Homo sapiens: one gene and its partners. The protein of the gene in region 6 interacts with the protein of the main gene of each other region in a biochemical or structural test. Each region holds a gene or a part of one and is shown on either strand. Other genes may lie near its edges. The genes, in order: HIF1A, MAP3K1, USP20, USP4, USP8, USP28 and TRIM55.

What was found.
Region 1: of the proteins of USP28 (region 6) and HIF1A, one has a biochemical effect on the other in vitro, tested with the Homo sapiens proteins (one study listed by BioGRID).
Region 2: of the proteins of USP28 (region 6) and MAP3K1, one has a biochemical effect on the other in vitro, tested with the Homo sapiens proteins (one large-scale study listed by BioGRID).
Region 3: of the proteins of USP28 (region 6) and USP20, one has a biochemical effect on the other in vitro, tested with the Homo sapiens proteins (one large-scale study listed by BioGRID).
Region 4: of the proteins of USP28 (region 6) and USP4, one has a biochemical effect on the other in vitro, tested with the Homo sapiens proteins (one large-scale study listed by BioGRID).
Region 5: of the proteins of USP28 (region 6) and USP8, one has a biochemical effect on the other in vitro, tested with the Homo sapiens proteins (one large-scale study listed by BioGRID).
Region 7: of the proteins of USP28 (region 6) and TRIM55, one has a biochemical effect on the other in vitro, tested with the Homo sapiens proteins (one large-scale study listed by BioGRID).

Annotation. Positions count from the first base shown.
Region 1 is NC_000014.9:61,733,277-61,737,402, forward strand, and holds part of HIF1A (hypoxia-inducible factor 1-alpha), read left to right. Parts: intron 1-861; coding exon 862-1,009; intron 1,010-3,612; coding exon 3,613-3,833; intron 3,834-4,126.
Region 2 is NC_000005.10:56,884,773-56,888,898, forward strand, and holds part of MAP3K1 (mitogen-activated protein kinase kinase kinase 1), read left to right. Parts: coding exon 1-54; intron 55-1,159; coding exon 1,160-1,291; intron 1,292-2,605; coding exon 2,606-2,748; intron 2,749-3,453; coding exon 3,454-3,585; intron 3,586-4,126. UniProt on the Homo sapiens protein: Component of a protein kinase signal transduction cascade. Activates the ERK and JNK kinase pathways by phosphorylation of MAP2K1 and MAP2K4. May phosphorylate the MAPK8/JNK1 kinase.
Region 3 is NC_000009.12:129,838,214-129,842,339, forward strand, and holds part of USP20 (ubiquitin carboxyl-terminal hydrolase 20), read left to right. Parts: intron 1-4,126.
Region 4 is NC_000003.12:49,326,423-49,330,548, reverse strand, and holds part of USP4 (ubiquitin carboxyl-terminal hydrolase 4), read left to right. Parts: intron 1-2,732; coding exon 2,733-2,863; intron 2,864-4,126.
Region 5 is NC_000015.10:50,426,888-50,431,013, reverse strand, and holds part of USP8 (ubiquitin carboxyl-terminal hydrolase 8), read right to left. Parts: intron 1-4,126. UniProt on the Homo sapiens protein: Hydrolase that can remove conjugated ubiquitin from proteins and therefore plays an important regulatory role at the level of protein turnover by preventing degradation. Converts both 'Lys-48' an 'Lys-63'-linked ubiquitin chains.
Region 6 is NC_000011.10:113,865,189-113,869,314, reverse strand, and holds part of USP28 (ubiquitin carboxyl-terminal hydrolase 28), read left to right. Parts: intron 1-4,001; exon of another isoform or gene 4,002-4,063; intron 4,064-4,126. UniProt on the Homo sapiens protein: Deubiquitinase involved in DNA damage response checkpoint and MYC proto-oncogene stability. Involved in DNA damage induced apoptosis by specifically deubiquitinating proteins of the DNA damage pathway such as CLSPN.
Region 7 is NC_000008.11:66,130,129-66,134,254, reverse strand, and holds part of TRIM55 (tripartite motif-containing protein 55), read right to left. Parts: intron 1-4,126. UniProt on the Homo sapiens protein: E3 ubiquitin ligase that plays an important role in regulating cardiac development and contractility, muscle growth, metabolism, and fiber-type differentiation.

The DNA of each region.
Region 1 (4,126 bases), on a different chromosome or scaffold from region 6:
GGTTTTGCCATGTTGGCCAGGCTGGTCTCGAACTCCTGACCTCAGGTTATCCACCTGCCTTGGCACCCGGCCTCTTTTAGTTTCTTTAAAATGTACAATTAAATTATTTTTTACTATAGTCACCCAAAACAAGTACCTTTGACATAAGATTTGATTCTGAATTTTACTCAAATGAATGTTAAGATCCCCAAGATAAGTTAAACTTTGGACTATCTCACCTGTTTAATCTGTACCTATGCATGACTTCCCACTGTGCTTGAGGATACCTGAATATCACTGAGTTTGTGTGACTGATCAGCCTTGAACTCAAGAGTAAATCCAAGTCTGCAGTCAGGACACCCCAATCCTCAAAATAATACCATCATTAGCATTTATTTAGTACTTTCTCCCAAATCAGTATTTAATTTAAATTGCCAAAAGACTTACAATGTGGTATCAATTTATATTTAAATATGCTACATATAGCTTTTTAAAGCATCTTTGGTTCTCTGGAAACCATAGTCAGAATTTAAGGAAGTTATTGTGGCACCATTTTCTTGAAAAAGGCTATTGATTATTCTCTAATCTGACACCAACCTAAGTCATTAAAGGAATTTTAGTTACTGAAGATTGTATATTCATGAACTCTTCACTTAGCTCACTGGCAGCAAAGGAGTTTTATTTAGGGGGTTTGAAAAAGGAAATGGGTACATTTTCAGCTATTCTGGGACGCACTGTCAGAATGTAAGCAGTTACAACTGATTCCACTAAATAAACATTTGTTTTCCAAAACAATGATGAACATTCAGCATCTGTTCATTTAATTGAAAATTCAAAGTTAAAATATTTTCTCTGCATGATTCTTTTTCTTTTCCCCCCTAGTGTTTACTAAAGGACAAGTCACCACAGGACAGTACAGGATGCTTGCCAAAAGAGGTGGATATGTCTGGGTTGAAACTCAAGCAACTGTCATATATAACACCAAGAATTCTCAACCACAGTGCATTGTATGTGTGAATTACGTTGTGAGGTAAGTAAGTTTGAGAAATAAACATTTTTGGGGAACAAATAGTAATTCTTTTTGGATACTCTGTTCATTTATAGGAAGATAAGATAATAAATATTAACTAAATTTTAATTCTTTTACATCGCTACCAAATTATTATTTTCTATACTCTGACCTAGGTTTCCAGTCCAGCTATTCCACAGTGATGCTGCTAAACACTGTCAGTAGTTGTCTATCCCCATACCTTCACTCCTATTTTTAAAAAGACCATGAAAAAAATACCAGATCCATTGATTGGTTTGGTCTAATTATACAGATATCGGCATATACTATCTCAAGACAGCTGTGTTCTTTTTGTAGGAAGAATCCTGGCCTAGATTTGTATCATAGCTCTACCACTCATTAGCTCCCTGACCTTGGGGAAGTCTCTTCATTTTTCTGAATTTCATCTATGTAGATAATCCTTCAGAAGGTTATAATGAAAATTAAATGAAATTCTATGAGATTAGGGAGGGGGGAGGGATAGCATTAGGAGATATACTTAATGTGAATGATGAGTTAATGGATGTAGCACACCAACATGGCACATGTATACATATGTAACAAACCTGCACGTTGTGCACATGCACCCTAGAACTTAAAGTATAATTTAAAAAAGAAAAGAAATTCTATGAGATTAATAAGCTATATGATGTAATACATGGCTCTTGTATATTCATGAACTCTTCACTTAGCTCTTTGGCTTGTGAATATTATGTACATCAAAATTTAATTTTTCATTTGATCTATTTTACTAGACTCCTGCCCCATCTAGTCTACCTGTCCACATTATTACCACATTCTAGTCCATCTTGCCCATTACTACCAGGCTAAGCTTTCTAGTGTGGATATGTCATCATCTTATTTTCCTTAGAATTTTAGCGATCTTTTTATCATTTCCAAGATAAACACTTGCCTAGGTGTACAGCATCCTTGTTTACCATCATACTCACGCATTAGAGATTTAGCCTTCCCTTTAAAATCTAGGGTCACTCCTCTTAGGAAGACTTTGGGCAGTTTTTATTTTTGCTACTTCTGACACCATCCTTTAATGTTTTAATATTAGTGCCACAGAGTTCTTTTGTGACTTTACCATTATGTAAGAATCTTCCACTTGGAATGTCTTTCTCTTCCTCACACCCCAGTCTGCCTAGCAAATGCCACTTGATCCCAAGTATCAGCTTGTTAGCTTCTCAGTGAAGCAAGCCTTCTCTATTTTAGCAGTTATCACAGTGTATTTTAATTGTTTACATATCTACTTTCACAATGGGTTATAAATTTCTTAAGGTCAAGGGTTGGCTATTTTAATCTTTGCATTATCAGTTCATTTCAGATAGTGAACATTTAATACGTTAATTAAAGGAATAATTTACATTTAAGCCAAACGTGAAGATAAACTATTGCTCATCATCCCTCTTCAGCCGTATCCTGTAGGTGGTATCACCTTATATTCTTACCACCAAAGAAAATATGGCCCCTCTCTTAGAAAGATCTTAATCATTTATCTGTGTATCTTTAGGACTATCCTTAGATCATGCCTCACATATTGATGCCAAAGAGTTCTTTTGTGCCAATTTCATAATGTGTGTCAGCACAACAATTCTGAAGATTTGTTGGTGTCTTTCATGTACTTGACTACAAATTGCCTTGCCATTACTACTCTTCTCAAAGGATATCTGAAATTCTTTTTTTCTTTTTTTTTTTTGAGATGGAGTCTCACTGTCACCCAGGCTGGAGTGCAGTGGCGTGATCTTGGCTCACTCCATTTCCCGAGCTCAAGTGATTCTCATGCCTCAGCCTCCCAAGTAGCTGGGACTACAGGTGTGCACCACCACACCGGGCTAATTTTTTGTATTTTTAGTAGAGACAGGGTTTTGCCATGTTGGCCAGGCTCTTGAACTCCCAGGCTCAAGCGATCCACCCGCCTCAGCCTCCCAAAGTCCTGGGATTACAGGCATGAGCCACCACGCCCAGCCTGGATATCTGAAATTCTTAACTGAAATTAGTCAAATTATCTTGTACTGGGGATTTTTTTTTTAATTTCAACTTTTATTTTTGATTCAGGGGATACATGCATAGGTTTGTTACATGGGTATATCATGTGATGCTGAGGTTTGGGGTACAATTGATCCTGTCACCCAGGTAGTGAGCATAATACCCAACAGTTGTTCAACCCTTGCCCCTCTCCCCTAGTAGTCCTCAGTGTCTATTGATGCCATCTTTATGTCCACAAGTAACCCAGTGTTTAGCTCCCACTTACAAGTGAGAACATGCAGCATTTGGTTTTCTGTTCCTGGGTTATCTCACTTAGGATAATGGTCTCTGGATGCATCCATGTTGCTGCAAAGGACATTATTTCATTCTTTTTTATGGTTGCATACTGTGGATTTTATTGGGTCTTTATTTTGTATTAGCATTTTAAAACCCTAAATGTGACACAGTACGCATGAGTGATCATGCATCTCAAGAAATCTTGAAATGTTCCTGTCCATAAAGCAGAATTTTTTAAGAGACCATTTCACAGTCTCCCTTCCCCTCACTGTATCAAGTGCTCATTTGTGAATTACCAATTTCTCTTGTTTTGACAGTGGTATTATTCAGCACGACTTGATTTTCTCCCTTCAACAAACAGAATGTGTCCTTAAACCGGTTGAATCTTCAGATATGAAAATGACTCAGCTATTCACCAAAGTTGAATCAGAAGATACAAGTAGCCTCTTTGACAAACTTAAGAAGGAACCTGATGCTTTAACTTTGCTGGCCCCAGCCGCTGGAGACACAATCATATCTTTAGATTTTGGCAGCAACGGTGAGTAGTTATTTTTGTTAATCCCCTAAATTGTGTCTGTTGCTACAAGCCCCATTTCAACTAAACATTACTTTACGGTTTTTGTTGGTAATCATTTGGACATTACAAGCTAATATATGTTTATAGTTTTCTTAAATGTATTTGCTTAAATATTTTTGCCCCCGTAATTTCTTACCATTCTTGCTTTTTTATACTGTTGGAAATTGTGCTTCAAAGTGTCCTTAAGGTATTTCTTCTTCCCACATAAATTTTTCCTGGCTACTCTATTTCTGTATCCTGCTGTCAGATTTTCT
Region 2 (4,126 bases), on a different chromosome or scaffold from region 6:
TGGGAGCCACGTGTGAGAAGAGCAATTACAATCTCTTCATTGAATGGATGGCAGGTATGTTAATGTTTTAAATTACAAAATAGTAGTACGTGGATTTAACTTTCTGCAATTTAGGAAAAACCAGTTTAATTAAAATTTATTTCTATCAAATAGTTTGGGTTTCTAAAAACAAATCACCCCAATATATTAGTATGAACCACAAATACTTCGTTTTGTATTTCATTTACTATAAATGAAATATTGACTACCTCTACCTTTTAAATTTTTCCAGTGTGTTTTTAAATGATTGTGTAGCATTGTTGTTTTTAATACTTGATATGTATAAGATATGTATATTTCCAGGTAGCCATGATAAATTGGACAGATGAGGAAGTGTTTTAACATAACAATATACAAACAAAATTAACATATAACTTGAAAACTTACTACAAGTAAACTAGCACTGAAGCATAAAGTTGAACCTTGTCATCTGCTGAAATAAATGAAGACTGAGTTTTATTTTGTATTATACAATGTATACAATAAAATTAATGACCTGATGTGATGAACAGATTGTTTGGTTTAACTTCTTAGATTTGTGTGTGTATTTAAGAGTGCATTTCTCTTTACCAGTCAGTTCTTAAGTATGTTATCTGTTGGTTGGTCTTAATAAAGATTTACACTACAGTAGATAGGTTGACTACTATAAACACTTTTAAAAGCGGCTAAATTTGAGACATGTTCCAGGTCAGAGCTAGTAAATGGTAGAATATGACGCCTAACTCTGGGTTTTCTGTTCCTCCTCCCATTCTTTCCACCTTTTACTACATAATATGTTAACATTGTTTACTTTAGTCATTAATAAAGTTGTTTTGTGTATTTTGAGAAGACAGAGAATTGAATTGTACATTTCAGAAATAGTTTAATCCGAAATTGTTAACTTTTACAGCTTTCTGAAATCTTGACTCTCCAATAAACTGGTTTCCCTGTGGGTTCTGTGAAAATGTCTCCTAATTAGTAGGTTTTTGAGATGATACAGGAATATGTTAGTTTTGAAATGTTTTTCTTCTGTTTCAGATGTGAATGTGAGTTCATGCAGTGAAAACTTTAGAAACCAAAGTGTAATAAATACTTTTAATTCTGTCTTAAGTTTATGATAATTATTTCTATTGTCTTATAGGGGGATCGGTGGCTCATTTGCTGAGTAAATATGGAGCCTTCAAAGAATCAGTAGTTATTAACTACACTGAACAGTTACTCCGTGGCCTTTCGTATCTCCATGAAAACCAAATCATTCACAGAGATGTCAAAGGTGAGAATTCTTCTAATTATTATCTAGTGACAATAAAAAAATTAATTTTAAAATTTGGGGCCAGGCACAGTGGCTCACACCTGTAATCCCAGTACTTTGGGAGGTGAAGGCAGGTGGATCACTTGAGGTCAGGAGCTCGAGACCAGCCAGGCCAACATGGTGAAACCCTGTCTCTACTAAAAATACAAAAATTAACAGGGTAAGGTGGCGCATGCCTGTAATCCTGGCTATTTGGGAGGCTGAGACAGGAGAATTGCTTGAACCCGGAAGGCAGAGGTTGAAGTGAGCTGAGATCACACCACTGCACTCTAGCCTGGGTGACAGAGTGAGACTCTGTCTCAAAGAAGAACAAAAAAATGGACCTTTGTTGATAGTTTCTAACAGTGGGATTTTTTTCTCTGAGTAATTCAGAATATTAGAACTGAAATGAGCCTTAGGGATCATTTAATCTGCCTTCCTCGTTTAATAGAAAAGTACATTGAATACAAGAGAGGCTGTGCCTTTTCTACAGTTTTATTGCTAGTTAATGGCAGAAAGTATACAACACAGGTCTCCAGATTCCCTGTCTTGGCCTCATGATACGCTGACTCCCAGAAAGTTCCTTTTCCTGGTTTTATTTTGAATAATTGGGATATTGGGATATCATCAACTTCTTTTAAGAAAAATTCCTTCAAATCCTTTGTAGGTCCCATTATTTTCCTTATCCTTTTCTTTTTTTTGGAGACAGGTTCTCTGTCACTCAGGCTGGAGTGTAGTGTTGCAAACTTGGCACACTGTAACTCATTTCCTGGGCTCAAGTGATCCTCCCACCTCAGCCTCCCAAGTAGCTAGGACAACAGGTGTGCACCACCATGCCTGGCTAATTTTTTATATTTTTTGTAGAGATGGGGTTTTGCCATGTTGCCCCCAGGCTGGTCTTGAACTCCTGGGCTCAAGCGACCCGCTTGCCTCAGCCTCCCACAGTGCTGAGATTACAGGCGTCAGCCACCGTACCTGGCCTCAGTTTATTTTTCTCAAGAGCAAATTTGGTTTTCTGTCATTAGTCTTTTTAGCTAGTATTTGACATAATGTGTTGAAGTAATTTTATAACTTTTTAAATTAAGCTCTAATTATGAATTTAGCGTACGCTAGAGAGAGCTGTGTGCCTTTAGCAAGAATGAAGTGAAAGGAAAAGAGAATAACTGTTTGCACCTCTGACATGTAGTTCACTTCTTTCTTTTGTCATTGTCCTAGTTCATTAGTATTGTACTGGGCTTTTATCTGTCCTTATTTTTGTTTTTAACATACAAGGTCATTTGCTGTGTTTGTTGACAGGTGCCAATTTGCTAATTGACAGCACTGGTCAGAGACTAAGAATTGCAGATTTTGGAGCTGCAGCCAGGTTGGCATCAAAAGGAACTGGTGCAGGAGAGTTTCAGGGACAATTACTGGGGACAATTGCATTTATGGCACCTGAGGTGAGAAGCATCTTTGAGTGTGATGACAGAAAATATTTTGGAATTCTGTGTAACAGCATTATACTAAATTATCTTGCAGTGGTATCCAGTATGTACTTACCAACTAGAAGTCCGTGGCCCTTAAAATACGGTTTTAATAATATCTTTCAGACCCTTATTCTCGACCTTTCTTTGCCTTGGCAATATTCAAAAAACAGGTTTTAATAGATTTACTTAACGGCTGTTACTAATAAAGAATTCTGGGGTAATTTATAGCAGTTGTTTTGTAATAAACTCAAAGTGCACATAAGAAATTTTTAAAAATATTCTCTCTCTATTCTAAAAGGAGATGAGCATACAGAGGCAGCTCCTGTCTGTAGTGGAAGGAGTTTAAGCATTGTTCTTCTGACTCAGCTTCTTCTGTCGTGTTCATAATTCTTCATGTTCATATGTAGTAATGATCTGTTGTCCTCTTGCCACATAGTTTGCTAAGAGCAAAATTCTGTGATGGGACTCTGCTTCAGAATCTCACAATTCTCCAAAATATTTTTGTGCTACCTGGAAAATTAAGCTCATTAATGAAATAAATTAGATATTAGGTAGTCCACAGAATTCCTGTTTGTACCAGTTTTCTCCCTAAAGTAAGGAAGTAGAATCTATAACTACAAAATGGCCTTCTCTTTTTCAAATGAGTCCTATTTCCAAATTAACTCTGATTTATTTTAGGTACTAAGAGGTCAACAGTATGGAAGGAGCTGTGATGTATGGAGTGTTGGCTGTGCTATTATAGAAATGGCTTGTGCAAAACCACCATGGAATGCAGAAAAACACTCCAATCATCTTGCTTTGATATTTAAGGTAATTGTGAGATAAAAATTACTTCTTTGTGCTAAAAGGAGTACAGCAGAATTTGGCAGGAGGCAAATTTTGATGGGTTCTCCCTAACAATCTAGCATGAAGGTAAATAAATAGTCTGTATATTTATTCAGAGAGGATTTGATATACAAGTTTTTTACTTTAAGATGGTGCAAAAGCAATACAAATTTGGTAAAAACCATACTTTGAATTTTGATTTTTGTCTGAGCTAGCAATATGTGCTATGATACACTGGTGATGCTAGGCAGTGGCAGCGAGTCACAGCTCCCAGTCAGCCACACAATCACGAGAGTGAACAACCAATACTCTATAGTGGACTGTGTTGTCAGATGATTTTGCGGAACAGTAGGCTAATGTAGGTATTATAAGCACATTCAAGGTAGGCCAGACTAAGCTATAATGTTTGGCAGGTTAGGTGTATTAACTGCATTTTCAACTTAAAAAAATATCATCAACTTAAAAGGGGTTTATCACGACATAACCTCAGCGTAAGTTGAAGAGCATCTGTGTATGTGTGTATTTC
Region 3 (4,126 bases), on a different chromosome or scaffold from region 6:
GTATTTTTAGTAGAGACGGGGTTTCACCATGTTGGCCAGGCTGGTCTCAAATTCCTAACCTTGAGTGATCCGCCCGCCTCAGCCTCCCAAAGTGCTGGGATTACAGGTGTGAGCCACTGTGCCCGGCTAACAACAAATATTTAAAGGCAGGAAAGTGGCAGTGCTCTTTGGCTCCAGTGAGCAGTCATGGCTCAATAAATAGAAATTTCAGGAGAGCCAATTTCCATTGATTATAAAGACTTAGGTTTGTAGCAACTAGAGCTGCCCTCTGGGAAAAGGGTGATTTTATCATCAACGACTGCTCAAACTGGGTTTGGAGAACAACCCAGTATGGCTTTTACAGAGCAGAGTTGTGCCTTAAGGGGAAGATGCATGGTTTCTAAACCCCTTTAAACTCTGAGATTGCATGGGGGAAGGCAGCTGCAGATCATGCTGCCTGAAAAGAGAGGATCTGATTTCAGGCCCCAGAAATCATGATTTTCCTAGTTCTTAGTTTCCGCATCTCTAATGTGAGTTTTTTCTAAGGTTTCTAGTCTGAGCTTCGAGACTGAGTTTCTGCTCATGCTTACTCACCACTGAGTGTGAGGCTTTTAATGACCTGGGCCAGTGACTGGCTGCAGCCTAGGGTAGCCCCAAACCCACGCCTTCTCCAATTAAGGGACTCTTCCGGACAGAGCTCAGAGCAAAGGGTAGTAGCAGGCTTTGAGCTGCAGGGAGATACTGTCATATCCTAGACTGAAGGAAGTTAAGCTGAGCAGAAAAATGCTCTGAAGAATGACTCAGAAGAGGCTCTTGTGAGGAAGCTTCCTTGGAGTACGCGTGTTTGGATTTGGGGAGGTGAAGGTCGTCCCCATGCCAGGCTGGCCGGGGCTGTTTGTGACATCGTGGAGCTGAGTGTTCAGAGCATGGGCTTCAGGGCAGGTAGTCGTGGGTTCGAATTTTGGTTCTGCAGCTCAGTAGCTGTGTGACCTTAGCCAGTTATTCCACTTCTCTGAGCCTCGGTGTCTCCATTGTTAGTGATGGAGATGGATTTAGTTTGGAACCTTGCCACCTCCCAGGGTGGTTGTGAGGGTCCAGTGAGGTCACATGTGAGAACACCAGACTAAGATGTTAGTGTCAGTTCCAATATTCAGGGCCGTGGGGCAGGGGGAAGGGCGATGAGGAGACACAGAAGTGTGTGGGCAGCAGAGACTGTGGAAGTGTGGAGGCATGGGGAGGCCTGAGGGCTCTGCTTCGAGAGTCAGAGGATGGTGGCCTCCGAGTGAGGACTGGGTTAAGGGAAGGGGTGGGTGTGTCTGGGACTTAGGGAGAATGCTGTTGTGTGGAGGTAGAGTAAAGACAGCAGGAGGGAGAGAAAGGGTGTGCGAGGGCCAGAGGGGACTGTGGAGGGGGTGGGCACACACCCTGTGCGGGGCTGGGGGTGTGAGATGGCTAATGTGGTTGGGGTCAGCGTGGGCAGGGCTGTGGGCATCGTTGTGTGGGTGGGAGGCCCAGAAGTGTCGCCCTCCCCATCCTGAGGGACTGGTTCCTCGCTGGGAGGAGGAGGATGTAGCCAGAACCTCTGGGAAAACAATGAGTAACAGGCACCAGAGGCAGCCAGGTCCAGATGTGCTGCCTACCTAGGACCACAGGCTGTGCTGGCTGGTCCCTCCCCTGCCCTTCCTCAGGCCTTGCCCCTCCACTTTGCCCCTGTGGGTGGAGTGGCACTTTCCCCCACCCTGGAGGCCCAGGGAAGGAAAGCTGCCTTTATGAGCCTGAAGCATCTTGGAGGTCTCCTGGGGCCAGCAATGGTGGGCTCTTTGCCAAAAGTCTCAGGCCTTCCTCCCCCCATCCTGTGCTCTCCTGCCCCAAGAGAGGAGGCTCTGGTGGGCCGGGAGGGCGGGGCACACGCTGCACCTTGCTGACTTGTTGTACAGTAGGTCCTACTCTGCGTGGCTGCACCTGGAAGCACGTTCTTTCAGCTGCACAGGTGTCTTTCCCTTTTGGCCTTTATGAAATGCCTGCTGTGCACACTCCATATATTTGCACAGAGGCACAGGTGGGACGGAAAGAGTGGGGAAAGCAGACACAACCTGCTCGCTTCCTGCTGTGTTGCTTCCTGTCTGGGACCTTCCATTCCTCCTCTGTGAGATGAGAAACAGCCGCCCTTGCCCTAGAGAGTGGGTGAACAAAGCCCTGGGTACCAGGTCTGGAGGCTCAGTGGGTGCTGGGTCCTGGATCCTGCGATGGGGCTGCCTGTTCCAGAAAACCCGCTCCCTGCTCCCACCTCAAAGGTGAGAAAGGGAATCTATTTTTTTAAAAAGTCAAACTTAAGAAAAATTACAAGAATACAATGAACTCCCACATACCCCTCACCTAGATTCACGAATTAGTAACATTTGCCTTATTTACTCTAACTCTAATCTCTATAGTTATTGTCATAATTATTGCTGATTCAGGTAGGAGTAAGCTGCAGACATCACAGTCCTTTTCCCCTAAATATCCCAGCGGGAATTAACTAAGAATAAGGATATTATCATACATAACCAAAGCGTGAGTTCCACCTTTAGAAACTTTTTTTTTTTTTTTTTTTTTGAGATAGGGTCTTGCTCTTGTCACCCAGGCTGGAGTGCAGTGGCGCCATCTCAGCTCACTGCAACCTCCGCCTCCCAGGTTCAAGTGATTCTTCTACCTCAGCCTCCCGAGTAGCTGGGACTACAGGTGCCCACAACCATGCCCGGCTAATTTTTGTATTTTTAGTAGAGACGGGGTTTCACCACGTTGGCCAGGTTTGTCTCAAACTGCTGACCTCTGGTGATCCGCCAGCCTCAACCTCCCAAAGTGCTGGGATTACAGGCGTGAGCCATCACTCCCGGCCTAGAAACTTTCACATTGATGGAATCATGTATTTGTTTCCCAGACCTGCCATAACAAAGTACCACAGACTGGGTGGCTTAAACGACAGAGATTTATTTTCTCACAGTTCTGGAGGCTAGACGTCTCAGATCAAGGTGCCGACAGGTTTGGTTCTTCTGAAGGCCCTTTCCTTGGCCTGCAGATGGCCATCTTCTCACTGTGTCCTGGCTTGGTCTTTCCTCTGTGTGAGTCCGGATTTTCTCATCTCATAAAGATACCAGTAAGATTAGATTAGGGCCTGCCCTAAAGATCTTATTTTAACTTAATTACCTCTTTAAAGACATTATCTTCAAATATGATTACATTCTCAGGTCCTGGTGGTTAGAACTTCAGCATATGAATGGGGGAGAGAGAACAATTCAGTCCATAACAAATACTATGATCTAACAGGCAGTCCACACTCAGGCATGCTGGTTGTCCTGGGGATGTTCTTTGTGGCATCCCCCCACATTGACCCACAATCCAGCTTTGTTATGTCTCCTCAGTGTCTTGCCTGGAACAGTTTCTCAGCCTTGGTGGAGAAAGGGAACCTTCACGTTGCAGGGAAGCAAAGGTGCTCAGCAGGAATGGGGGTTCAGAAGCGCAGGCTGCCCCAGGACAGGGAAGCTGTTGAAGGGTTTGCTCTAGTCCATGAAGTTGCCTTTCCTGGCTTTTTCTTTGATGTCAAAAGCACCAGGAGGTGAGCTTAGATCTCAGGAAGCGCACCAAGAATCCGTGCATGAGTCCCCTGCGGTGTGTCTGACTCCATCACCATGGCGCCTGTTCGTTGCTGGGCTGGTTGGCCTGCAGAGCCCTGAGTGGTCTCATGGAGGGTGCCCTTCTGAGTGACCTTGAGCATGTGACTTCTATTCCTACCAATTTCAGTGTCCTAATGTATAGAACAGCCAGTGACACAAATTATAGTAGTAAACATTTTTTGAGCATTCTTGTCATGCAAATCAATAAAAAATCTGAGCCACCCAGAAAGTCCATGAGGCCCTAAGTCATTCAACTTAGCGTTTACTGTGCATTGGCTCACTTCATCTTCTCAGTAACCCTAGGTGCTGTCATTGTCCCCATTTTATGAATGTGGAGACTGAGCGATTTATCTAAAGTCACAGACTTGCAAGGGGCAGAGTGAGGTACTGAACCCAGGGCTACTTGTCCCTGTAATTTCCTTCCATAGTGACCGTTACCTCCCGGGATAATGTATGTGCAGCAGCTAACCCTCAGTGAGTGTAGGAAACAGAGG
Region 4 (4,126 bases), on a different chromosome or scaffold from region 6:
CCATCCTGGCTAACATGGTGAAACCCTGTCTCTATTAAAAATACAAAAACAAAATTAACCGGGTGTGGTGGCGGGTGCCTGTAGTCCCAGCTCCTCGGGAGGCTGAGGCGGGAGAATAGCATGAACCCGAGAGGTGGAGCTTGCAGTGAGCCGAGATGGCGCCACTGCACTCCAGCCTGGGGGACACAGCGAGACTGTCTCAAAAAAAAAAAAGTTACTGCTCCATTGCAATGTACCTAGTTACCCAAGAGCTCTGATGGAGATGCATGAGGAGATTAATGTTGTTTCATGCCTACTAAAAACATCCGTTCTGCAGCCTGTGAGTCAAGAAGTAATTTCAACTTTTTTTGTTTGTTTGTTTGTTTGTTTGTTTGTTTTGAGACAGAGTCTCACTCTGTTGCCCAGGCTGGAGTGCAGTGGCTCAGTCTTGGCTCCCTGCAACCTCTCCCTCCCAGGTTCAAGCAATTCTCCTGCCTCCTCCTACCAGGTTCAAGTAATTCTCCTGCCTCAGCCTCCTGAGTAGCTGGGATACAGGTGCCCGTCCCTCCACCTGGCTAATTTTTGTATTTTTAGTAGAGACCAGGTTTCACCATGTTGGCCAGGCTGGTCTCAAACTTCTGACCTCAAGTGATCCTCCCGCCTCAGCCTGCCGAAGTGCTGGGATTACAGGCCTGAGCCAGCGTGCCTGATTTGATTTCAACTTTCAAGTCTTATTATTTAAGAAATACATTTTATAAGACTTTATCTGCCATAGATAGTGATTCTCCTGAAGGATCTGGGCAAATTAAATTGAAAACCTTTTGGAAAGGATTTACCATTCTAGATGCCATTAAGAATATTCATGATTCCACCTGGTGCAGTGGCTTATACCTATAATCCCAGGACTTTGGCAGGCTGAAGTAGGTGGATCCTTTGAACCCAGGAATTGGAGACTAGGGTGGGCAACTTGGCAAAACCCCATCCCTATAAAAAATACGAAAATTAGCTAGGCCTGGTGGCATGCACCTGTAGTTCTAGCTACTTGGGAGACTAAGGCAGGAGGATTGCTTGAGTCTGGGAGGTCGAAGCTGCAGTGAGCTGTAATCATGCCACTGCACTTCAGCCTGGGTGATAGAGTAAGGCCTGCCACTCCCACCTGCCCACACACACACACAAAAATATTCATGATTCATGGGAGGTCAAAATCAACATTAATAGGAGTCTGGAAGAAGTTCATTCCAACACTTACGGATGACTTCAACGGGCTCAAGACATCAGTGGGAGAAGTAACAGCAAAAGTGGAAATAGCAAGAGAACTAGAATTAGAAGTGAAGCCTGAAGATGTGACTGAATTGCTTTATTTTTTATTTTTACTTTTATTTTTATTTTTTTTGAGATGGAGTTTCGCTGTGTCACCCAGGCTGGAGTGCAGTGGCGCAATCTTGGCTCACTGCAACCTCCGCCTCCTGGGTTCAAACAATTCTCCTGCCTCAGCCTCCCAAGTAGCTGGGCTACAGGTGTGCACCACCATGCCCAGCTAATTTTTGTGTTTGTAGTAGAGACGGGGTTTCACTACCCTGGCCAGGCTGGTCTTGAACTCCTGACCTCATGATCTGCCCACCTCGGCCTCCGAAAGTGCTGGGATTACAGGTGTGAGCCACTGCGCCTGGCCTATTTTTAATTTTAATTTTTATTTATTTTTATTTCTTTTGAGACAGAGTCTTGCTCTGTCACCCAGGCTGGAGTACAGTGGGGTATCTCGGCTCACTGCAGTCTCCACCTCCTGGGTTCAAGCAATTCTTATGCCTCAGCCTCCCGAGTAGCTGGGACTACAGGCATGCATCACCATGCCCAGCTAATTTTTGTATTTTTACTAGAAATGGGGTTTCACCATGTTGGCCAGGCTGATCTTGAATTCCTGACCTCAAGTGATCTGCCTGCCTCAGCCTCCCAAAGTGCTGGAATTACAGGCATGAGCCAACATGCCCGGCCTGAATTGCTTTAATCTTATGATAAAACTTGAATGGCTGAGGAGTTGCTTCTTATGGGTGAGCAAAGAAAATGGTTTCTTGAGATGGAATCTATGTCTGGTGAAGATGTTATGAGCATTGTTGAAATGACAACAAAGGAACCCTGCCCTGAAAAAGGTGTGTAAACTAGTCGGAGGGATGGTGGGAAACCATAACCACCTCATGTATGATTTATTTATTTTTGAGATGGAGTCTTGCTCTTTCACCAGGCTGGAGTGCAGTGGCGTGATCTTGGCTTACTGCAACCTCTGCCTCCCGGGTTCAAGCAATTCTCCTGCCTCAGCCTCCCGAGTAGCTGGGACTACAGGTGCCCGCTACCACACCCGGCTAATTTTTATATTTTTAGTAGAGACGGGGTTTCACCATGTTGGCCAGGCTGCTCTCAAACTCCTGACCTCATGATCCAACCGCCTCAGCCTCCGAAAGTGCTGATTACAGGTGTGAGCCACCACACCCAGCCTGGAGTTTTTCTTTTTTATCCTCTTCTCTCCCTCCAATTATAGAAGAAATACAAATTCCTCATAAAATCTTCATGGATAAAGAGAAAACATGGATAAAGACAAAAGTCTGCTCTGTATAATGACCAGTGACAGAATTTTGGAATTTCATTCCTGTTTCTTTCTGTAAATAATTTTCTTATTTCTGAAAAGTACATGGAAATCATGTAAAACCATCATTTCTGGGGTAAAGAGCAGTGACTTATGTGCTCTTTTCCTTTTTTAGATCCTGAGAGTCAGACCTTGAAAGAACACTTAATTGATGAATTGGACTATGTATTGGTCCCTACCGAGGCGTGGAATAAACTACTAAACTGGTACGGCTGTGTAGAAGGCCAGCAACCCATCGTCAGAAAAGTGAGTTATGTGAATTGTCCCACCTGCTGGTCACTGTCTGCAGGTGCTTTCTGTTGGACACTGACTAGTGTTTGCTAGGAAAATGAACATACCTCAGTGGTTGAATAGTGGTGCTTGAGGCCTTGTTTCTGGATCTCTTTTTTTTTTGAGATGGAGTCTTGTGCACTTGTCGCCCAGGCTGGAGTGCAACGGCACGATCTCGGCTCACTGCAGCCTCTGGCTCCCAGGTTCAAGTGATTCTCGTGCCTCAGCCTCCTGAGTAGCTGGGATTACAGGCGCCTTTCACTACGCCTGGCCAATTTTTGTATTTTTAGTAGAGACGGGGTTTCGCCATGTTGGCCAGTCTGGTCTCAAACTCTTGACCTTGTGATCCGCCCGACTCGGCCCCCCAAAGTGGTGGGATTACAGGCGTGAGCCACTACGCCCAGCCTGTTTCTGGTTCTCTTTAGGAAATTGTGGTTGTGAGTGAAGTTGCTCACCCAGAATATTATCATGAGTGGCCTCTAAACATCAGAGCTGCCCAGTGGCTTGGAATGTGCCCAGCAGCGCTGTGAGAGAACTTTCTGGAAAATTCTATGAGAGAAAGTTCACTGGGGGCATATGGACATATAGCTAATGTCCTGCATCTTGTTTATCTTAAAAAACCTTTATGATACTGCTTTTCCCTCTATGCTTAAGAGTCTTTGAGCTAGGCGCAGTGGCTCACATCTGTAATCCCAGCACTTTGGGAGGTTGAGGCGGGTGGATCACGAGGTCAGGAGATCAAGACCACCCTGGCCAACATGGTGAAACCTCGTCTCTGCTAAAAATCCAAAAATTAACTGGGTGTGGTGGCACATACCTGTAGTCCCAGCTACTCGGGAGGCTGAGGCAGGAGAATTGCTTGAACCCAGGAGACGGAGGTTGCAGTAAGCCGAGATCACCCCACTGTACTGCAGCCTGGCAACAGAGTGAGACTCGGTTGCAAAAAAAAAAAAAGAGTCTTTGATCAGGCCGTGCATGGTGGCTCACGCCTGTAATCCCAGCACTTTGGGAGGCTGAGGCAGGCGGATCACGAGGTTAAGAGATCGAGACCATCCTGGCCAACATGGTGAAATCCTGTCTCTACTAAAAATACAAAAATTAGCTGGGCATGATGGTGGGCCCCTGTAGTCCCAGCTACTCGGGAGGCTGAGGCAGGAGAATCTCTTGAACCCAGGAGGTGCAGGTTGTAATGAGCTGAGATCGCACCACTGCACTCCAGGCTGCTGACGGAGGAAGACT
Region 5 (4,126 bases), on a different chromosome or scaffold from region 6:
AGGCTGCTCTGTGCAATGTGCACTGCAGGATGTTTAGCAGCATCCCTAACCTCTACTAGACGCCAGTTTACTATCATCCTTCCCTTCCAGTTGTAACAACCAAAACTGTCTACAGTCATTGCCGAATGTGTCCTGGAAGGCAAAATTACCCCCAACAAGAACCACTGGTTTACAGCAAAGTAGGTAATTCGATGTGGAAAATGTTGAGTGTATGCCAAAGGAACATCTTAAGATGTAAATATTAACTAGAAATCAGTTATATGTGAGAGCAGACAGATATTAAATCTGTTTATCAACTAATAAGGCATCAATGTTGACTTTGATAATCCCTATTGTTTTGGAAGATAATTAAGTATTGACACCAAAATTATGTTATCTAGGATTTGGTGAACTGCTGGGCAACACAGTGAGACCTTATCACTACAAAAAAAAAATAAAAAAATAAAAAATTAGCAGGGCATGGTGGCATGCGCCTGTGGTCCCAGCTTCTCGGAAGGCTGAGGCCTTCCTTGAGCCTGGGAGGTTGAGCTTGCAATGAACCATGATTACACCATTGCACTCCAGCCTGAGCAATAGAGGGAGACCCTGTCTAATTGGGGGAGTCTTAGAATGCCATGAGAAAAAAAGAAAAGAAAAGAATAAACTAGCCCTAGTTCTTTATTTTTTTGAGATGACGTCTCACTCTGCTGTCCAGGCTGGAGAGCAGTGGCGCAATCTCGGCTCACCAAAACCTCCACCTCCCCGGTTCAAGCGATTCTCTTGCCTCAGCCTCCCAAGGAGCTGAACTAGCCCTAGTTCTAAAGAGTGACTGTCTAAACTGGCTTCAATTAGGTAAACAATAGATACCTACTATACACAAGGTGCAGTGTTGTGATACAGGGGATACTAAAAAAATACAACTCTTAATAAAGTTTCTGCCTCTTAAAATGAAAGTTAAGTACATAACGGTAACAAAGTAAAGTGTGGCTTAATGCTGTGATATAGGCACTTAGCAAACCAGGCCAATGTCTGTTTGTTTTATTAAGGACCATTCCCAGAAACTAACAAAAGGGTAACTGTTTTCCAGAATAGATGTCTATCTACATTTATAACTTTAATCCATTTCTTTTGTCTTCTACCTCATTAATTTTTTAACAGATGCAAAATCATTAAGTAGGGAGCCAGATCGTACTTAACATGCACCAAAAACATAGTTCTCAATCCCAGCTGTATGTTAGAATCAGTTACCTAGAGAACTTTAAAAAAATATTGATGCTCAGATCCCACTCCTAAACAATTAAATCAGAATCTCTATGGATGAGACATACACACAGGTATTTATTTTCTTATTTATATATTTAAAAAAATACAGAGTCTCACTATGTTGTCCAGGATAGTCTCAAACTCTTGGGCTCAAGTGATCCTCCTGCCTAGGTCTCCCAAAGTGCTGGGATTACAGGCATGAGCCAACCTCGCCTTGCCCACATAGGTATTTTTAAAAAGCTTCCCAAATGAATTCTAACACCAGTCAAGACTGGGAACCATCAATATAAGAATGAATATAAACATGCTGCTAGGAGCAACAAAATAATATGAAGGCAACAATTTGTTTCCAGCTGAAATCAGCATCTTAAATCATTCAACCTACCAAAATTTTAAAAAATCATTTTCATTTTTAAAACTCTGTAATTGAGAAATTAAAATAACACCTCCAAAAAAAAAAAAAAAAACACCTCCAGGATGCTTATGCCCATAACTCTTGTTCTGAAATTGGTATTATAATGTGTAATTATTTCATTTTACTCTATTAAAAAGACATGTGGGTTTACACCATTATTGGTATGTTTCAGAATTTAGTGTAGTAGTCCCCCCTTATCCATGGTTTCGCTTTCCATGGTTTCAGCTACTTGCAGTCAACCACAGTCCAAGAATATTAAATAAAAAATTCCAGAAATAAACAATTCATAAGTTTTAAATTGTGCACCACCTCACTTCGCCCAGTCTGTGACATGAATCATCCCTTTGTCCAGTGTATCCACACTGTAGATGCTACCTGCCTGTTAATCACTAAGTGGCCGTCTCAGTTACCAGACTGACTATAGCAGTATTACAGTGCTTGTGTTCAAGTAACCCTCATTTTACTTAATCATGGCTTCAAAGTGTAAAAGCAGAGATTCACGTATGTCAAAAAGAAGTTGTAAACTGCTTCCTTTAAGCAAAAAGGTGAAAGTTCTCAACCTAATAAGAAAAAAAACCAAAAACCTCATGCTGAGGTTGCTAAGATCTATGGTAAGATCTTTTATCTGCAAAATTATGAAGGAAAAAGAAATTTGTGCTAGTTTTGCTGTCACACCTCAAGTTGCACAAGTTATGGCCACAGGGCATAACTTTTATTACACTATATTGTTGTAATTATTCTATTTTATTATTAGTTATTGTTGTTAATCTCTTGTTACTAATTTATAAGTTAAACTTTATCATAAAAATGTATATATAGGGAAAACATAGTATATATAGGGTTCAGTACTATCTGTGGTTTCAGGCATTCATTGGAGGTCTTGAAACATATCCCCTGCAGATAAGAGGAAGACTGCTGCATTATTAAAAACTAAATTGTAGGCCCGGCGTGGTAGCTAACGCCTGTAATCCCAGCACTTTGGGAGGCCGAGGCAGGTGGATTGCCTGAGCTCAGGAGTTCGTGACCAGCCTGGGCAACACAGTGAAACCCCATCTCTACTAAAACACAAAAAATTAGCTGGGCGTGGCGGCATATGCCTGTGATCCCAGCTACTTGGGAGGCTGAGGCAGGAGAATTGCTTGAACCCATCAGACGGAGGGTGCAGTGAGCCGAGATCATGCCACTGCATCCAGCCTAGGTGACAGAGCAAGACTCCCTCTCAAAAACAAACAAACAAAAAACTAAATTGTAATGTGTTAGTCAAAAGAGACAAGGCTTAGTTAACCCTTATTCACTATACATGAGAACTGTTTTACTTGAATTAGTATGGTATTAGTCAGGTGTGCTGGCGTGTGCCTGCAGTCCTAGCTACTTGGGAGGCTGAGGCAGGAGGATCACTTGAGCCCAGGAAGCAGAGGTTACAGTGAGCCAAGGTCATGCCACTGCACTCCAGCCTGGGTGACAGAGCAAGACCTTGTCTCAGTTTAAAAAAAAAAAGGGCCAGGTATGGTGGCTCACGGCTATAATCCCAGCACTTTGGGAGGCTGAGGCGGGCAGATCACCTGAGGTCAGGAGTTCAAGACCAGCCTGGCCAACATGGCAAAACCCCATCTCTACTAAAATACAAAAATTAGCCGGGCATGGTGGCAGGTGCCTATAGTCCCAGCTACTCGGGAGGCTGAAGCAGAATTGCTTAAACCCAGGAGGCGGACATTTCAGTGAGCCGAGAACTCACCACTGCACTCCAGCCTAGAAGACAGAGCAAGACTCCGTCTCAAAAAAAAAAAAAAAAAAAAAATTAGTACGGCTATAAATGTAGAATTCCAAATAAGTTTAATATAATATTTCATCATTCAGTACTAATAAATTTAATATTATGGAACTGTTGCAGGCCTTACTTTCCATTTATTAATCATATGACTTTGAACAAATTCCGTAAATCACTCCCAATACCACCACCACTCTTCAGTTTACTTTCATCTGCAAAATGAAATAGGAACTATTTGTCTGCTTCTATAGGGTGACCATAGGTATCAAGTGAAAAAATATACAAAAACATGCTTTGAAAACTGTAATATGCCATTACAACATAAAGTATTACGGTTAAAGAAATTGGAAATGGGTCAGGCGCGGTGGCTCACGCCTGTAATTCCAGCACTTTCGGAGGTTGAGGCAGGTGGATCACAGGTCAAGAGATCAAGATCATCCTGGCCAACATGGTGAAACCCCATCTCTACTAAAAATACAAAAATTAGCTGGGCTTGGTGACATGCTACTCGGGAGGCTGAGGCAGGAGAATGGCGTGAACCCAGGAGGCAGAGGTTGCAGTGAGCTGAGATCGTACACTGCACTCCAGGCTGACAACAGAGCAAGACTCCATCTCAAAAAAAAAAAAAGAAGAAGAAGAAAGAAAGAAACTGGAAATTGGAAGTGTACCTGATTCTTCATCTGCTATATAAATGCAAACAA
Region 6 (4,126 bases):
TGGGATTACAGGCACATGCCACCACGCCTAATTTTTGTATTTTTAGTAGAGACGGGGTTTCACCATGTTGGCCAGGCTGGTCTTGAACACCTGACCTCCGGTGATCCGTCTGCCTTGGCCTCCCAAAGTGCTGGGATTATAGGCGTGAGCCACCGAACCCAGCCTGTGGTTAATTTTAAAAGTTTTTTTAGCAATGGGGTCTCTCTGTGTTGCCCAGGCTGGTCTCAAACTTATGAACCAAGTCATCCTGCCTCAGCCTCCAAAAGTGCTGGGATTACAGGCATGAGCCACCGTGCCTGACCTCAGATGTTAGTATGCCTTATAAGGGCCTCATATGAGATTTATTTTATTTATTCCTTTTCTTTCTTTTGTCTTTTTTTTTTTTTTTTGAGACATGGTCTTACTCTGTCACCTAGGCTGGAGTAGTGCAGTGGCTCTATCATGGCTCACTGCAGCCTCAACCTCCTGGGCCCAAGCAATTCTCCTACCTCAGCCTACAGAGTAGCTGGAACTACAGACATGTGCCACCATGCCTAGCTAATATTTTTAGTTTTTGTAGAGATGGGGGGTCTCTTTATGTTGCCCAGGCTGGTTTTGAACTCCCGCGCTCCAGTGATCCTCCCGCCTGAGCCTCCCAAAGTTTTGGGATTACAGGCGTGAACCATGGTACCTATCTCTTTTTTTCTTTATTCGTATGAGATTTTAAACTGAAGTCTGTTTGCTTCTATCTTACAGATGAGAAATGCAGCTTATGACCATGATTGAATTATAAGTAGCAGAGCTGTGACTTCAAGCCATTCTGACTTGAAGCATAACATTTCTCCGACTTTAGTACAAGCCTTTCTAAAACCAAAGTTTCTGACTTACCACTTGACTATGTAGCACTTTAATAATTTTAATAACTTTTCATTGAACCCTCATAGGCACTCTATGAAATAAAATTTAGTATGAGCAGGAAGTAGAATTTGCAAAGTGACACAGCAAGTAAGTGATAAAACCAAAACTATAACACAGGATATCAGTATTTTTACTGTAAACTCTAGAGGAGTTTAGTTGAACAGGCAAGTCCCAGTATTTTTCATTTCTATTGCATTTCTTCATTTTGCTAACAATTTATTTGCAGTACTTCCTTTGATAGTCATACAGGGCTGTCAAAGCTTTTGGTGTACTTCATTTTCCATTCTGGAAACTGATGCTGAGGAAGATTGAGATTTGCCAGGAGGCTGATGTGTGCTGGAGTCTGGGCTGCATGGCACTATTTCCAGCGTCTAGGCTTTCTACGTAAAACAGGGGTCAAAATATCAGACACACAAAACCAAACTAAAGATCTGCCTCAGTAAGTACCAGCTGCATGCTACATGATGGCTGGTAGGCACTTTAACCCTAAGAAGATTTTCTAAACAACATTTTCTTTTTCAATCTTCTTGCCCAAGTTAGTACTTTCTTGTGTCCCCTCCCTCCCTCCCTTCCTCCCTTTCTTCCTCCCTCCCTTCCTCCCTCCCTCCCTCCCCCCTTCCTTCTTTCCTTTTGTGTGGGGATGTGTATACAGGTTTCCTTATTCATTTGTTTTTTCATAGAGTTGGGGTCTAGCTATGTTGCTCAGGCTGGAGTGCAGTGGCTATTCACAGGCATGATCGTGGTGTACTACTGTTTGAAAATCCTGGGCACAAGTGATCATTCTGCCTCAGCCTGCTGCAGAGCTGGAACTACAGGTGTGTGCCACTGCACCCAGGTGATTTTTTTTTTTTCAATTGAGGCAAAATTTATATAACATAAAATTATTTTAAAGTGGGGCTGGGTGAGGTGGCTCACTGAGGTCAGGAATTCAAGACCAGCCTGGCCAACATGGTGAAGCCCCGTCTCTACTAAAAAATATAAAAATTAGCCAGATGTGGTGGTGAGCACCTGTAATTCCAGCTACTTGGGAGGCTGAGGCAGGAGAATCACTTGAACCCGGGAGGCAGCGGTTGCAGTGAGCGGAGATCATGCCACTGCACTCTAGCCTGAGTGACAAGAGTAAAACTCTGTCTCCAAAAAAAAAAAGTTCAAGTGTACAAGTTCAGTGACATTTAATATATTCACAATATTGTGCAATCACCAATTCCGTCTAGTTCTAAAACATTTTCATTACCCTGAAAGAAAACTTTGTAACCATTAAGCAGTCACTCCCTATTCCCCCATGCCCTCCACCCCTGGCAATACCAATCTACTTTCTGTCTCTAGATTTACGTATTAGAGAGATTTCATGTAAATGGATCATGCAATATGTGACCTATTATGTGTGGCATCTGTCGTTTATTGTAATGTTTTTGAGATTTGTTCAAGTTGTAGCATGTATGAGTTTTTCATTTTAATCACTGAGTAATATTCCACTGTATGTATAGATATGTTTTGCCTGTCCATTCTTCCATTGACGGACATTTGAGTTATTTACACCTTTTGGTTATTATGAATAGTTCTGTTATGAATTTTCATATACTTGTATTTGAGTACCTGTTTTCCCTTCTTTTGGGTATATACCTAGAAGGAATTGTTGACTCATATGGTAATTCTATGTTTAACTTCTTGAGGAACTGCCAGACTGTTTTCCAAGGTTGCTGGGGAAGTTTTATATTCCCACCAGCAATACACAAGGGTTCTAGTTTTTCTCTTTTCTCATCAAACACTTGTTATTTTTTGTTTTTGTTAGATAACAGTCATCCTAATGGGTGTGAAGTGGCATCTCATCATGATTTTGATTTGGCCATGTTAATGTTATGGCTAATGTTAAGTGTCTTCATAAACTTATTGACTATTTATATATCTTCTTTGGAGAAATATCTTTTTAAGTTCTTTGTCCATTTTTGAATTGGGTTGTCTCGTTTTTTGGTTGTTGACTTAAAGGGAGTTCAAAGAGAGTTTTTTATATCATCCAGATGCTAGACTCTTACCAGATAAATGATTTAAAAGTATTTTCTCCCATTGTCTTTTCACTTTCTTGATAATTTGTACACTGTGTATTTCTTTTTTCTTTTTTTTTCCCCAAGACAGAGTCTGGCTCTGTCACCTAGGCTGGAGTGCAGTGGTCTGATCTCGGCTCACTGCAACCTCTGCCTCCTGGGTTCAAGTGATTCTCTTGCTTCAGCCTCCCAGGAAGCTGGGATTACAGGCGCGTGCCAACACACCTGGCTAATATTTGTATTTTTAGTGGAGATGGTTTCACCATGTTGGCCAGGCTGGTCTTGAACTCCTGACCTTAGGTGATCCACATTGGCCTCCCGGAGTGCTCGGATTACAGGCATGAGCCACCGTGCCCGGCCAGCACTGTATATTTCTTGTTGGATTTCTTGATGTATGTGTTTATTTCTTGAATTTGTATACCGGTTGTCTTTTCACTTTCTTGATAATGCCCTTTGATGCAGAAAAGTACATCAGCCCACTTCAGTGTCCCAAGTAGCTGGGACTACAGGTACACACCACCATGCCTGGCTCAAAAGTGTTATTATTTTTTTCTTTTGTTGCTTGTGCTTTTGGTGTCATAGCTGAGAATCCATTGACAAATCCAAGGTCATGAAGACTTATCTCTGTGTTCTAAGAATTTTATAGTTTTAGTTATTTATTTAGGTTGTTGATCCATTTTGAGGAATTTTTGTGTATTGTGTGAGGTAGGGGTCCAGTGTGATTCTTCTGCTGTGGATATCCAGTTGTACCAATACCATTTGTTGAAGACATGATTTTTCCCCCATCAAATGGTGTTGGCACTCTGGTTGAAAATCAGTTGACCACAGATACGAGTTTATTTCTGGATTCTCAGTTCTATTCTGTTGGTCTATATATCTGTCCTTATGCCAGTACTACACTGTTATGATAACCGTAGCTTTGGATTAATACTAAGTTTTGATATAAGAAGTGTGAGTCCTCCAACTTTGTTCTTCTTTTCAATGTTGTTTTAGTTCTTCCAGGTCCTTTGAAATTCTGTGTGAATTTGAGGATCAGCTTTTCTGTTTCTGCAAGAAAGGCCAAAGCATTGCAGCTCTTTTAGAATTTGTCTAGCAGGTTTTCTGGTTTTCACTAGAGTTCCCCGCAACCCCCAGCCACACGCACACACAAAGGACCATTGGAATTTTGATAGGGATTACATTGAACT
Region 7 (4,126 bases), on a different chromosome or scaffold from region 6:
AAAATTCAAATCCAAATCCAGAAGCTTTCTTCAAATTTCCAAACACATAGTTATTTAGCAACATCTTAGATTTGGGACTACATTTTGTTTTGTTGCTATACAGATCCAATTTTTAAAAACTACAGGTTTTTATGAGCCATGAAATCAATTTAGGGAGCTATGATCTGCATTGTTAAAATAAAAATAGAATGGAATAGCAAATACTGTGAATTACATGTAGTAAAAATAAGTATTGCTGTTCGAAACTTTTGTTTCAGGTGTACGTGTGTATATATGTGACTGAAACAAAAGTATATGTGTGTTTGTGTGTGTGTGTGTGTTTGTGTATGTGTGTATATACATATGTGTGTGTATATATATCCGTCCATATATGTAAGTGGTCACAATGTAAAATGCACTTCCTACTGTAAATCATGAATACAAGTGTTTGAAACCCATCTTTTTTGATGTGTGGTATCTTGTAGCTGCAGACCCAGAACTCAGAGAAAGGCAGAGAACGTGCTGATGTGCCTCTGTAAGACGCTAATGTTCCTTTATAAGTTGCTAGGTGGACGTCAATTACTTGAGATTAGGCTAAACATTGGGAGAAGCCCTGGGTCTTGTAAGAAAATTGCACGGACTTCCAGTTTCAAAATTTTAGAATCTGACTGTTGCAAAAGGAATTTCTGTCTGGTCTTGCAGCAATATGCTTTCCATGAAGTCTATGACCTTCTGATTTGACCACATTATTTGGAACTCAAATAAGGAAGTCAACTCCACAATTGAGAAAATTATCCTCCTCTCAGGTCTGTCTGTTTCCTCCACTAGAATATCAGCTCCATAAGGGCAGGGGCCATGATGAGTCTTTTTTTTTTTTTGCTGCATCTCCAGTACTCGGAACAGTGCCTTGCACAGAGGCAGTGGCTCCATAAATATTTGTTGCACAAATGAGTGAGACAATGAAAGGGAATTTGACCTATTAAATGGACAGTATTCCCTGTGCTCTAGTGTAACACCACCCAGCTGGAGAAGGCATGGCAAATATGGGGAAAGCCTGGGATCACCTGGCACTCCTGAGTGGCAGAGGAAGAGACCAGACCACATCCTGATTACTCCTTTAATAAATGACAGTGCCCTCTGGGGTTGGGACTGGCAAGTTGGTCTCTGCCTGGTCAAAGGCTTCTTCCCCTCTAAACCCTTCCCTCGTAGGTATCTCCACCTTATTATTAATGTGGGCTAAGCAAGAGTGGGCAGCTTGGGTCCCACATGCTGTTCTGATATCAACAGCTGTGACCAGAGATTGCGTCATAGAGCACAGGTCTATGCAGTATATGCAAATATTGAAAATGTGAAAACAGCCATAAGGCTCTACATTTAGTTTTGTTTGTGATTCAATTTATTTATTTTTTTCATGGTGCTGTATACACTGAGAACAATTTCCCATATTCCTCATTGGGTTTTTCTTATTTAGGTTGTAGCCCAGCCCCAGAGGCACCACTTACTCATAGATGAGCATATAATGAAACCTCTGTACAACTTCAAACATGTAACTGACTTGGGACCGATTTGGCATGTAAAAGAATGACATAAATACATGTTTATGAGGTGAGAGCAGCCAAGCTCACAGCTGTGGTCAGGGCCCAGTGCTAAATGTTGGCTGTGGCCCCTCACCGTTCAGTGTAGGCTAGACTGAGAAGTATGTAGCCTGCTGTCTCTGGTCTCTGAGGTTCCCGGGGCCACCCTAGAGTTTCCTGAGGAGTGGGCATCTGGTCTTGGTGAGGCAATTGAAGTAGTAACTTTGTAGTCAAACTGATATTTTTTTTGAGATGGAGTTTTGCTTGTCGCCCAGGCTGGAGTGCAATGGCTCAATCTCAGCTCACCGCAACCTCCACCTTCCCGGGTTCAAGCATTTCTCTTGCCTCAGTCTCCCAAGTTGCTGGGATTACAGGTGCCTGCCACCACACCTGGCTAATTTTTTTGTATTTTTAGTACAGATGGAGTTTCACCATGTTGGTCAGGCTGGTCTCAAACTCCTGACCTCAGGTGATCTGTCCACCTCAGCCTCCCAAAGTGCTGGGATTATAGGCGTGAGCCACTGTGCCTGCCCAAACTGATCTTAAAGCTTCATTTCAGCTCAGCTTCTCCATGTAGTGGCTATGTGGCCTTAGACAAGTTACTTAACCTCTTCTGGTCTCAGTTTTTACTCGTATCAAATATCAGATTAAGGGTCTTCTAATTAAATGTGGCAGAATGAACACAAGCATGTATTTATTTATGTATTTATATATGTATGTATGTATTTATGTATTTATTCTGCTGAAATCCCAGTGAAATGAGGATAAGGAAATAAAAGGGCATAAATCAATAAGGACAAAAAGTGAGCACAGATGACAGCAGATGAGAGATGTCAACCAAATGTTGGAAATTAGGAACATCTGGATGAAGGGACATGACCTACTTGAGTTGCATCTTAGTTCTGTTACATTCCTGCAGTGAGAAGCTTACAATAAGCAAGCTGACTTGAGCTATGGAACCCTGGAAAGGCTCTGGAACTGCAGGAGCCAGTAGTCCTGAAGGTGGAAGTAGGCGGTGACAGACTGGGAGAGGCTGAAAAGAGGAGGACTTTGTGCATGTTTTAAGAGATTACTTGAGGATGTGCTCCATAGAAATAAGAGAGTAAGCCACCAAACAAGGAGACCTGGAATCCAGGGAGCAAGGGGTTCAACCCAGGGGGAGAGTAAAAGAATTCCCAAGTAGAGGTAAAGCCCAGCCATGTGAGGGCTCAGTCCTAATTGTCTACAGTGGAAAGTCAATAGAAAATGTCTAAAATTGAAAAATCAAAGAATAGGAGCATACCAGTAGTATGCACATGTCATTGGTGATAAATAGCAGAAAAACAGCTAAAAGAATTAAAAGTGGTTGACTCTGGGGAATGAGGCTTGGGGGTGGGTAAAGAGAGAACAGAGTGGAGACTGCATTTCTCTTCAGAGGCCCAGTAGTAATGAATTCTAAAAGTTGTGTATGTTGATTACTTTAAGGCACTAAAAGCTTTAATAGGGTAGCAGTAATTATAATAATCAACACCTCACCGGATTATTGTGAGAATTAAAGAATTGCACATGATTCATGTGTTAGGCACCCTGAACAGTGTCTGGCATGCAGCACATAGTAGTTTTACTTGTTATATTTTAAAGTTAATTATTATTATATTAATTATTAATATTAGCCAAAATAGTACCTTCTCTTACCATCTCCCACTCCCAACTGTGGCTAGTCTGGCACCATGCAGAATTCTGGATAAGAATGCCAAGTTTTGGCTGGGCGCAGTGGCTCATGCCTGTAATCCTAGCACTTTGGGAAGCCGAGGCGGGTGGATCAAGAGGTCAGGAGATCGAGACTATCCTGGCTAACACGGTGAAACCCCATCTCTACTAAAAATACAAAAAAATTAGCTGGGCGTGGTGGCAGGTGCCTGTAGTCCCAGCTACTTGGGAGGCTGAGACAGGAGAATGGCGTGAACCTGGGAGGCAGAGCTTGTAGTGAGCCAAGATCACGCCACTGCACTCCAGCCTGGGAAACAAAGCAAAACTCCATCTCAAAAAAAAAAAAAAAAAAAGAATGCTAGGTTTTGTGGAGACTTACAGTCTCCAGCCTTTCTGGAGGAGGTCAGAGTTGACTGACAACATCCCAGTCTGTGATTGGTCACCCCCCCCGACCCCCTTCCAATAGCCACAGCTGAACTCTTTTCATTCTGTATATCCAAGGTCATTCCAGTGTTACCTAATGTACCCTGAGGCTCAAGATTCTGGTCTAGTAAGGCTGTCTGCCCCCAGGGGACAACTGCGTTTCCTCCCAGACATGTGGCCAAGTGCTCTGTGCAACTTGTGGTTTTGCTACCAAGTAAAATTGTCCCACAGGAAAGTCTCAAGTTCAAGAAAAAACAGCATAACAAAATCACAGAAAATCACAAAAGCATCCCTAGTTCACTCAACTATGAGCTTTATTGTTGGAAATTTGGTTCATTGCTTTTACGCAATTTACTTCCCAGGCCTGGGTACTATTTTTGGCAGCTGCACCAAGCCAACTTCATAGCTAAGGTGAAGATGTGTTTTGTAGTTTTACCAATACTGCAAGTTTTAACATCTCT